Linked DNA regions of Homo sapiens. The protein of the gene in region 2 purifies or fractionates together with the protein of the main gene of each other region. This does not show direct contact. Each region holds a gene or a part of one and is shown on either strand. Other genes may lie near its edges.

Evidence for each region. Proteins that work in one complex are often made in the same cells at the same time.
Region 1: the proteins of TINAG (region 2) and STK40 purify together in Homo sapiens (affinity purification with mass spectrometry; 2 studies listed by BioGRID and IntAct, with this or other methods). This does not show direct contact.

What each region holds. Positions count from the first base shown.
Region 1 is NC_000001.11:36,343,478-36,348,687, forward strand, and holds part of STK40 (serine/threonine-protein kinase 40), read right to left. Parts: intron 788-5,210; coding exon 643-787; intron 503-642; coding exon 383-502; intron 1-382. UniProt on the Homo sapiens protein: May be a negative regulator of NF-kappa-B and p53-mediated gene transcription.
Region 2 is NC_000006.12:54,320,959-54,326,168, forward strand, and holds part of TINAG (tubulointerstitial nephritis antigen), read left to right. Parts: intron 1-338; coding exon 339-428; intron 429-5,210. UniProt on the Homo sapiens protein: Mediates adhesion of proximal tubule epithelial cells via integrins alpha3-beta1 and alphaV-beta3. This is a non catalytic peptidase C1 family protein.

The DNA.
Region 1 (5,210 bases), on a different chromosome or scaffold from region 2:
CCCAGAGAGACCAGGTCCATTGATCCCAGACTTAACTGGAGTCAGACACACCTGGGTTGTGTTCCTGCCATGAGAGACTGCTTCTCTGAGCCTCAGTTTTCTTATCCCATAAAGGGGGACAATTTCTCCCTTACAGGTGGTGGTGAGAACTCAGTGAGGCAATGCCCATGCCCCGCTGGCAGGGCCTGGGTAACTATGGCAGCCCATAGTTGCTCAACCTTCAGTTCTGCCTATGCCCTCCCAATCTTGTCCATGCAGAGAATCTGGAAATCTGACTCTAACTGGCAGAGAAGCAGGCTGACTACTGGCTGCTTTTCTGGGTAGGATGGGCAGAGGCCCTGAGGACGCAGCCTTGTGCCCGGTCAAGTGCCTGTCCACTTACCATGATGCAATGATGGCACTGAGGGCCTCCAGGACGTCGGCGGCGGCCAGGCGCTGCTGGGGGTCAAGGACCAGCAGCTTCCGGATGAGACACACGGTGTTCTCAGAAACCCGTCCATCCCTGAGGCAGGGAGTTGGGGAGGAGGGCTCAGTGGGTGGTGCTGGGTCTGTGGCCAGGATGCCCAGGCTCACTGTGCCGTTTCCCTGCCTTAAGCCCATCAGGCTGGCTGCCCCCCCCACCCCCCGGGAGGCAGGACTCACTCAGGAATGGTATACTCGGCAGCCTTGATCTTGCGGAAGAGCTCCTGCGGGATGCTGTCGTAGAAGGGGAACTGGCCATACAGCATGGTGAAGAGCACCACGCCCAGGGCCCACATGTCACTGGGCTTGCCACGGTACGGCCGGCCTACGGGCACACACATACCACACTGTCTTCAGGCCACAGCACCACCGTGGCTCACCAGCCTGGAATCCCACCTGGGACCCTCCACCTGCCACCCTCACTTCCAGTCCCCCCAGAGTCGTCCTCTGAGCTCCTGCCCGTGCTCCCCGCTCCCCTGTTCCTCAGGATGCACCTCTCCTGCCCCAAGGAGAGGGCTCACTCAGCACCTGCTCACAGCACCTGCCCCGCCCGGCCAGATGGCGAGCCCCTGGGAGCCAGGCATGGGTCTGCAGCCCCAGCACCCAGCACAGCAGCTCACAAGCAGGGGGTCAAGAACACTGGCACAGCAGATAACTAGCTGGCTCCAGATGAGCTGGCCGCTCCTCCTGTCACCGTCCCCACACCCCACCTGCCTCCTTCACAGCCCGGATGACTACTTGCAGGTCCCCTCCTTTGTCTACTTGTGACTCCCCGTCTCCCCTCTAGAAGGGAAGTTCTCAGGTGCAGGTGCCTCCCTGCGGTGTTCACTGCTGAGCCCCAGTGCCCAGCACGGACCCAAGTATTTGCTAAATGAAGGATGGCCACTTAATTCACCTCTCTGTGAGAGTTTCCTCATCTGTAAAGCGAAAAGGAGCAGGCATCTAACGGAGCACCCGCTTTAGGACAGCATGGGAAGAAACACTTTTATTTCACTAACTGTGCTCCACAGCTTGAGGACACTGAGGCCCAGTGATCTGCTCTGTCCAGGGCCACATGGCTGCTCAGTGGGCCCACATCTGACTGTCAGGCTCTGCTGCTTGCCTCCTTTCAGGGCAACCTGTCCACCCACCCAGCAGCAATACAGCCATTGTCTGACCCACTCCCCCAAATGCAAAATATGAAGACCACTGGAGCATTTGAAAGCTCTTGGCCCTGCCCACTCCCTGCGATGCACCCTCTGGTATACCAGCAGGCTGTGGCAGCCTGGACCCCAGAACACAACTCCGTTCTCCGTGGGTGTGGAAGAGACGCTGCCAGGCACCCTAGCGTCACCTCCCTGGGCAACCAGGGCCCAGTGAAGGGCAAGCAGTTTAACCGGGAGAGGGTGTGCCATGTGTGCATGGCAGTGCCATTACAGGCCTCAGCCTGCGTCTTCAGAAGGTACCACGGCACCTTCAGGATGGCACTGCCGCCTACAACAGAGGGCTGTTGTGGGGAATAAGCACCTGCCCTGGCTGGTATAGCAGGTAGTTCTGTGGAAGATGAGCTTCTCCCAAGCTCTTTCCAGGCTGTGTCATCCTAGGCTCTTTCCAGCGCCCGGTGCCAAAGAGCAGCTGCGGTGACTGTGTGGCTGACCCCATGGCTGACTCAAGGACAGCCCCCTTTTCCTAGAACTTGCTCCACCAAGTGGGGTTGCCAGTACAGAATCTATTACTTGTACCACCATTCTTAGCTCTGTATGGTTCCAAAAAAGGTGCTGCCTCTCCTCCCGTGGCTGGAAGATGCTTCCTGTTGAGCTGTCCTGCTGGCTTAGGCAGGAAGGATCTGCTTCCAGGACCTGTGTAGGGTTCCCTCAGCCCGAGCCTCTGTCCTGACCTGGAGGTATGAATGGCCCCTCCCCAGACAAACTCGCTGGGAGCCTGACCTGGGCAGGCGACCTTCCCTGGGCTTTGGCTTCTGAGGGGACACTGTACCCACAAGCTTCCCTTTCAGCAACGATCATGCCAAACACTAGGTTAAGGGCATTACATATATATATATATATATATATATTTTTTTTTTTTTTTTTTCCTGAGACAGAGTCTTGCTCTGTTGCCCAGGCTGGAGTGCAGTGGTGAGATCTCGGCTCACTGCAAGCTCCGCCTCCCAGGTTCACGCCATTCTCCTGCCTCAGCCTCCCGAGTAGCTGGGACTATAGGCACCCGCCACCACGCCCGGCTAATTTTTTTTATTTTTAGTAGAAACAGGGTTTCACTGAGTTAACGAGGATGGTCTCGATCTCCTGACCTCGTGATTTGCCCGCCTCGGCCTCCCAAAATGTTGGGATTACAGGCATGAGCCACCGCGCCTGGCTGGTTAAGGGCATTATTTAATCCCTCAAGTACTACTACTGCCATCCCTATTTTACAGATGAGAAAATGGAGGCTCAGAGAGGTCTGTAACTTCCCCCAAATTCACATGGTTATTAGCCAGACTATCACCTCCATGAGGGCCAGACCAGGCCTGCCTTTTCACAGCTCCATGCCCCATGCCCATGCTGGGCACATGGAGAATAAATGAAAGGGCAGACCTGGGTCGGAAACCCACATGGTAGGGCTGGTACTTCAGCTTCTAACCCAGGAGGGAGGAGGCTGAAGTCAGAAGGAGATTGGAGGCCGTGATCACACAGCTGGTTCAACAGCAAGGCCAGAATGAGAACCCAGGTCTCTGGTCTCCCAGTCGAGGATTCTCTCTGATTCAGTCAGATTCCTTTGTTTCATCCTCCAAGACTGGCACGAGTCTGGAAGAACCAGAAGGATAGGCTGCTGGCAACAGCAGGGAGGGCCACAGAGCCTCAGACTGCAAATGAAGGCCACTCTAGGCTGGTGCTGCAAGAGAGGAGTCCCATCCAGGGCTAGCCCACAGCCTGAGCCCTGCAAACAGGCACAGCCCCACTCACAGGCTGGGTGGAAGGAGGAGCCTGGCTCTATCTCCTATGGGGATGCTTTGGGGATTACTGTAGAGGGTGCCAGACTGTGCTGGGCCATGGGGGTGGTGCCCCAGGAGTTAGGGTATACCCCTGGCACCCAGTTCCCTCTAGCAGAGGCTGTAGTGACTCTAACCAAAACCCCCAGGTCTGGGGAATGGTGCTACTGTCTTTGCACACGGGCAGCCCTGGGGACAGGCCTGGCTCTCCAGCAGAAGCGGCAGCTGGGGGAGCCTCCGAGGGAGTTGTAAGTGCTTGTATTACAGCAGCCTGCTCACCAGGATGTGTGTGAAGAGCTGGGACGAGGCTGGCTCGGCCACTGCACGGAAAGGGCGCACTCATGTGTGGGGTGGGGATGAAGGATCTTGGAGACAACCCCAAGTTCTCCATGTTGGAGGGATGGGAGCTGGTGTAAGCCCCGGTTCCCTAAAGGATTTGGGCCAAGGACAAGGGGGAAAGAGAAAGCAACAGAGTCGACAGTGAAAGAGTTGCGAGAATGGGCTTTAGTGGGAGGCAGCCCTGGGGCTGCGCCTCCATTTTCCAGTTTACTATTTATTAGCTACGACTTTGGACAAGAGATGTCATCTCTCTGAGCCTCAATTTCCTCATCTGTGAAAAAAGGACTTAAGATAGATATTGGCCTCACAGGGTAGCTGTGTGGTTTAAACAGATAACGCGAGTCACGCTCAGCACAGTGTCTGGAACTTGGAAATCAGATCAGTGGGCAGTAACTTTATGAGTTTTTTTTTTTCTTTTTTTTTTTTTGAGATGGAGTCTCGCTCTGTTGCCCAGGCTGGAGTGCAGTGGCACAATCTCGGCTCACTGCAACCTCCACCTCCTGGGTTCAAGCGATTCTCCTGCCTTAGCCTCCTGAGTAGCTTGGATTACAGGCAACCGCCACCACGCCCGGCTAATTTCTGTATTTTTAGTAGAGACAGGGTTTCACCATATTGGCCAGGCTGGTCTCGAACTCCTGACCTTATGATCCCGCCACAGCCTCCCAAAGTGTTGGGATTACAGGCATGAGCCACTGCACCCGGCCTGTGAGTTACTTATTTGTTTCGTGTATTATCTGTCTCATCCCCACTAGAAAGTCAGCTCCATGAAGGCAGCAATGTTTGTCTACTTTGTTCCCTGTTGTCTCCAAAGTGTCTAGAACAGAGCTTTGGGCCTGGGTGGCCCTCAGCAAACAGTAACAGAATGAATGAACACAGACAAGGAGAGAGGGCTCTGAAACACAAACTCACAGCAGCACACTCAGTTAAGAACTGTTCAATGGCTTCCACTCGCACTTGAAGTAAAGGATGACATCTCTTACTGAGGCCTATGTCAGGCCTTGCCTGATCTGGCCCCTGCGCACCTCTCTGGCTTCCCCTTGAACCAGGCTCACTTTCTGAGCAGCCTGCAATTGCTCCAACGTGCTGTGCTGCCTCTGGGACCCTCAGCCTCAGCCTAGTCACACATACCCAGGGAATTCCTAGTTTCCCTTAAGATCATAGCTCAACTGTCACACCTTGTGGGGAAAGTCCTCCAAGCACCCTTCATCCACTCTCACAGCAATCCCGTTCCTCCCTAGCACTAACCTCAGAGGAATTAAACATGCATTCATGTTATCATTACGTCTTCCACCTCCAACAGACCAAACATTTTGTATGGGGAGGGACAGTACTGGTCTGGGCCCCCAGTGAAGCCCCAGCACCTTGCCCAGGGCCTGCCCACAAATTTGCTGAGTGGACTGTCACAGAGCCTGGCTGTATTGAGCTTAGAGGCCCAATGTCTGGC
Region 2 (5,210 bases):
CAGTAACTATATAAAAACAGGCTGCTTTAAAAGGACTAGCCTGCAGAAAGTTTCCAAATACAAGTACATTGAATCTACTGTCCAATTTGGCTTGTTTTCAAACTTCAGCAGATGTGTGATCATATCATTTGTTAATTGCCTGGAGTAGAGGATTACAGCATATTGAGTGGTAGCTAACGTATGTTTTACAATTTATTTTTGCCAAGAATCAAATAACCATATGGCTAACATTAATCAAGAAATTATGTTTTATGCCTTAACAATGTATAACTCTTTTTACTAATTGAAATATACTTCATAAAGACCAAGCCACTTTTGTAATTGTCATATCTTTGCAGCACATGCTCAGGACAGCAATGGAAATGTTCCCAGCATGTATGCCTTGTTCGTTCAGAATTAATTGAACAGGTCAATAAAGGAGACTATGGGTGAGAGAAATCTTGCTTTGTATGTTTCTTGACACTGCCATTTACTATGCAGGTTTCAATGTATTGCTTGGTTTCTATAAATGGTCATTGTTTAAAAAGAAAGAGTGGGAGAGAAATAGGAAGGGAGATAGAAAGCATGTAAACCTGGAATGCAAAGGTAAACATTAAATAATTAAAATGATCAAATAATAAATCTACAGCATAGCTGTAAATTATCTAGGAAAGAGCAATGTCGTGGTGTAGGTAAGGGAAGTGGAGGGAAAGCTACTTTGGATAAGTATTTAGGCAAAATCAGGAAGTCAGCAAAATTCATGTATTCATACTAACCATTTCTCCCTCTGCTGCTGCCCTCACCAAGCCAATCACATGCTTAGCTATCATGGGTAGAATCTGACCTTACAAGGATGATATTCAAATAACAAGCCAATCTAAATAATTTCACTGAAATGATGGGTATCTAACCAATGTCACTTACGGTTGAATCAAAAGACAGATTGAGCTACTTTACTTTGCTAGTACACAAAAAGTAGGGATGATTGACACTGAAACATTGGAAATAACTGATGCTCTCATGCAGATTGAAAAATTAGGTGGCGTCTCCATTTACATAGAGGAAATTAAGATGTAGGCACTGGCCCGGCGAGGTGGCTTATGCCTGTAATCCCAGCACTTTGGGAGGCCAAGGTGGGTGGGTGGATCACTTGAGGCCAGGAGTTCAAGACCAGCTTGGACAACTAGTGAGACCCCATCTCTACTAAAAATACAGAAAAAATTAGCTGGGCATGGTGGTGCATGCCGATAATCCCAGGTACTCAGGAGGCTGAAGCACAACAACCACTGAAGCCTGGGAGGCGGAGGTTGCAGTGAGCCGAGATTGCGCCACTGCACTCCAGCATGGGAATCGGGGGGTGAAACCCTGTCAAAAAAACAAAACAAAACAAACAAACAAAAAAAAAACAAGAAACATAAAAAGATACAGGCGCCAACACTGGCTTTTATTATAGAACTAAAAGGAAGAGGAACAAGCCAGCTGGTATCTGCTTCAGGATTTCTCCACTGCCATTGAACGAATCTCGATATACCCTTGATAACATCTTCTACATTTCTGGAAAAGATTTCACATAAAAAGATCTATTATCAAGCAATTAGAAAAGTGAAATAATCTGGAGAAGTATTTTTATAAAATGGAAGTGTAATCTCCTTCCACATATAACATGTTGTTTCCCAGCATAATGGGGACACTAAATTTCAATGTATTCAAAGTTTTTTCTTGGAACATACAAAACATAGAAAGTCACATTTGTTGATATTAATATCCTTAAACCATTCTCAGTTCCTCTGTGTGTTTGTGAGTGTGTGTGTTTGTGTTAAACCAATATTTTAGAAGATAACTTGATGACATCTTCAGTATTTCCAGGGAAAACCAATTATAATTTTCTGTGGCAAATCATATTTAAATTATTCAAAGAAGATGAGAGTATATGTCATCTTGAGAAATTGAATCAGATTCCTAAAAGGGTTCAAATGCTAGACCTAATTAACATACATTCCTAGCTTTCCACTGTTAACAAGTACATGAGAAACTATAGTCTAAACCAATGTGGTACACCTAAGAATACACACTTAGGAGCACAGAGGTTGTTGGGAATGCTATTAGGTTGGTGCAAAACTCCACCATTACTTTTGCACCAACCTAATATCTTCCTTGGAAGGAGGAACTTTCTTTCCATGATTTATTTATTTTGAGCATGCCCTACGGCTGCTTAAGAGGCATGGGCTTTGCATTTTAGTAGCAAATATTAAAACATCACATAACTTTAAAAGAGTAGAAAGTGAAGTATAATTGGAGCAAAAGGAAACATATAAAAACCAAAGGAAAAAAGTTAAGTAAAAGGAGCAAGCTATAAAGACAAGAAATAAAACTAAAATTATTTACCAGGGCAAAAAAGGGGGGAAGTCTTTAAATTTAAAAGAAAGTTCTAATTCTCAGCTATTCTCTCTTCATTATGCTCAAATTGTTTTTATGTGTAAAAATATAACCATATTATATCATTCAATATTTATTAAGTGCTTTTTAAAATAGCCTACATCAAATATGCAATCTTTGGTTTAAAATATTTCTTTCCCACATCTTGACAGTATTTTAGATCCAAGTCTTTATTTATTCTATGTAATGTACTTCAGTGCTTATTTATTCTCTGTATTATTTTTTAATGTAATCAGTTGATATTAATAAAACATATGTTCCACTGATGGCATGGCTGAGGATACAAATAAATCATTTTGGCCTGGCGAAGTGGCTTATGCCTGTAATCCCAGCACTTTGGGAGGCCAAGACGAGCAGATCATTTGAGGTCAGGAGTTTGAGACCAGCCTGGCCAACATGGTGAAACCCCATCTCTACCAGAAATACAAAAATTATCCAGGTGTGCTGGCACAGGTCTGTAGTCCCAGCTACTCGTTAGGTTGATGCACTAGAATTGCTTGAACCCAGGAGGTGAAGGTTGCAGTGAGCTGAGATCACACCACTGCACTCCAGCCTGGGCCACAGAGTGAGATTCTGTCTCAAACAAAACAAAAAAACAAATAATTTTTATGTTAAGGGAATTTACCATCTAGTTGAGGAGCCAACACTATCATATCTTTATAAAAGGATTTCTAATAATAGGGGAGAATAGAAGCTGTAAATTAGTGGCACAAGTAATAATCAGCAAGTTAGTGGAATAAAGGGAGATATATAAGTGTTTCAATTAACTGCTGCTGTATAACAAACCATTCCAGGATTCAGCATTTTAAAACGATAAGCTTTTCATCTTTTCACATCAGCAATTTGGAATAGGTTCAACTGAGGCTCTTTTGCTGCTCTCTTTTGGAATTACTCCTGTGTCAACAGAGCCTCAACTGAGGCTGAATTGTCTGTGATGGCCTTACTCTATGTCTTGTGGTTGGTGCAGGATGTTAATTGGGCCATGTTTCTCCAGCAGGCTAGCTTTGGCTTCTTCTCATAATTATTATTCTAATGGGGCATACGTGGAAGTTGCCCCAGTCCTCCCTTAAAGCTTATGCTTGAAAGTTTCATGATATCAATTCTACCACTTTCTATTGGGTAAAGCAAGTTACTAGGCCAGCTTACATTCAAAGGCTAGTGAAATAGATTCTTTCTTATGAACTCAAAATTTGGTCTACTGGATAAGTGGCTTTCATTTTTCACTGTTTTCTCAAAACCAGCTCACCCCAAACTGCAGTGATTAACTTCTACCTATTCTTAGTCACTGGCATCTTGCTCTATCTGCTCAACTTGAAAATTTGATGTTAGTTTGGTTCTTCCTTCCTTTTACTCTCAGTCAGTAGGTATTGCTAACTCCCACACAAAAAGTTTCTCTTAGATATTTACTTCTTCCATTCTAGACTATATTCTAATGCATTTCTTTATCAAGCCTAGTTTGAAATTACCTGACTTGTTTCTGTTTCCAGAAATTCTCAATGGTACTCCATTGCTTGTGAAACATAAGTATTGTCCTTAGCATAAATAACATGTTGGTCCAAAAGCTTTTTTACTACCTTATCTTTTATACCGTTTTCAGCCCCTGTGTCCCTATCCTCTCTCCTAGTTTAAGCATTTTACTTATCTGTCATTCCCTAAACATGCCACCCAACTTCAAACCTGCATGCTTTGCTCAAGAGTTACTTTTACTTTAAACAAATGCTCTCTTCTTTCATGTCTGGTCACCAAGGTCATTCTCATCCTTCCAGATAGAGAACTAAATTTGCTTTATGTAAAAAATTTGCCAACTCCTTCAGTTGTGTTTGAAGCTTTTGATCATATTTTGATATATTGCTAACAAATGGCACATGCCAAAGTCATTTCTATCTTTGCAGTGTTTCTTAAGGTATGAGCTTCTTAAATGTAGAGAAGTTTATTCATATCTATGTTCTCCGTGTTTATCAGAGAATATGATAGATCAATTAAGAAAGTTCAATAAATGCTAAATTGGATTAAAATGAAACTTATGAGTCCAGGTCAAGAAGGATGTTATAGGTTAGTCATACCTTTCACACTTTTTGAGCATATCTCACAGTAGAACATACATTTTACTTTGTGATCTAGTACACACACACGTGCACAAGCATCAACACACACATACAGACACAGAGAGTTTATTACCTCAGTATTTGTAATAAACTCTACTATTTCCTATTATTTCTCCTATCTTCTATTTTACTTTCTTAAACTATCACCCTGCTCACCAAATTGAGTGCTGAATTAAATAACCTATGAATGTCTCTGACCTGATGTTTGAAAACTACTAACATAGGGCAACAAAAACATACTTACTGATGTCACAGTTTTGCCCAATTTTGCCCAGTTAGCCTTTTGAATTATACTACAATATCTCTTATATTCAGAGGTTCCCTTATTGAGATTGCACTTTAAATTGTAACCAAGTTTCTAAAGATTTTATGAACTAACAGATCTTGTACAAATTAAAAGCATTAACTTGTGAGGTATATTATTAAAAATTAAGTTGTGTTTTCAATGATTCATAAGAGCCTATCACATTATAAACGATTTTGGTGATAAACATAGCAGGACAGGGTTTAAATTTGATGTGAGTACTGAAAATATATTGACCTAAAGTGGTAGATAATTCAGAATAGGCAATGATTAAATTACTTGCATCTTTCTAATTTTTTATCCACTATCATCTAGTAAAAAATTTTGTTTGTCTTCAAATTTCAATATTAAATTTTGAAGAGAATTTTTTTTCTAATTAAGGGCAC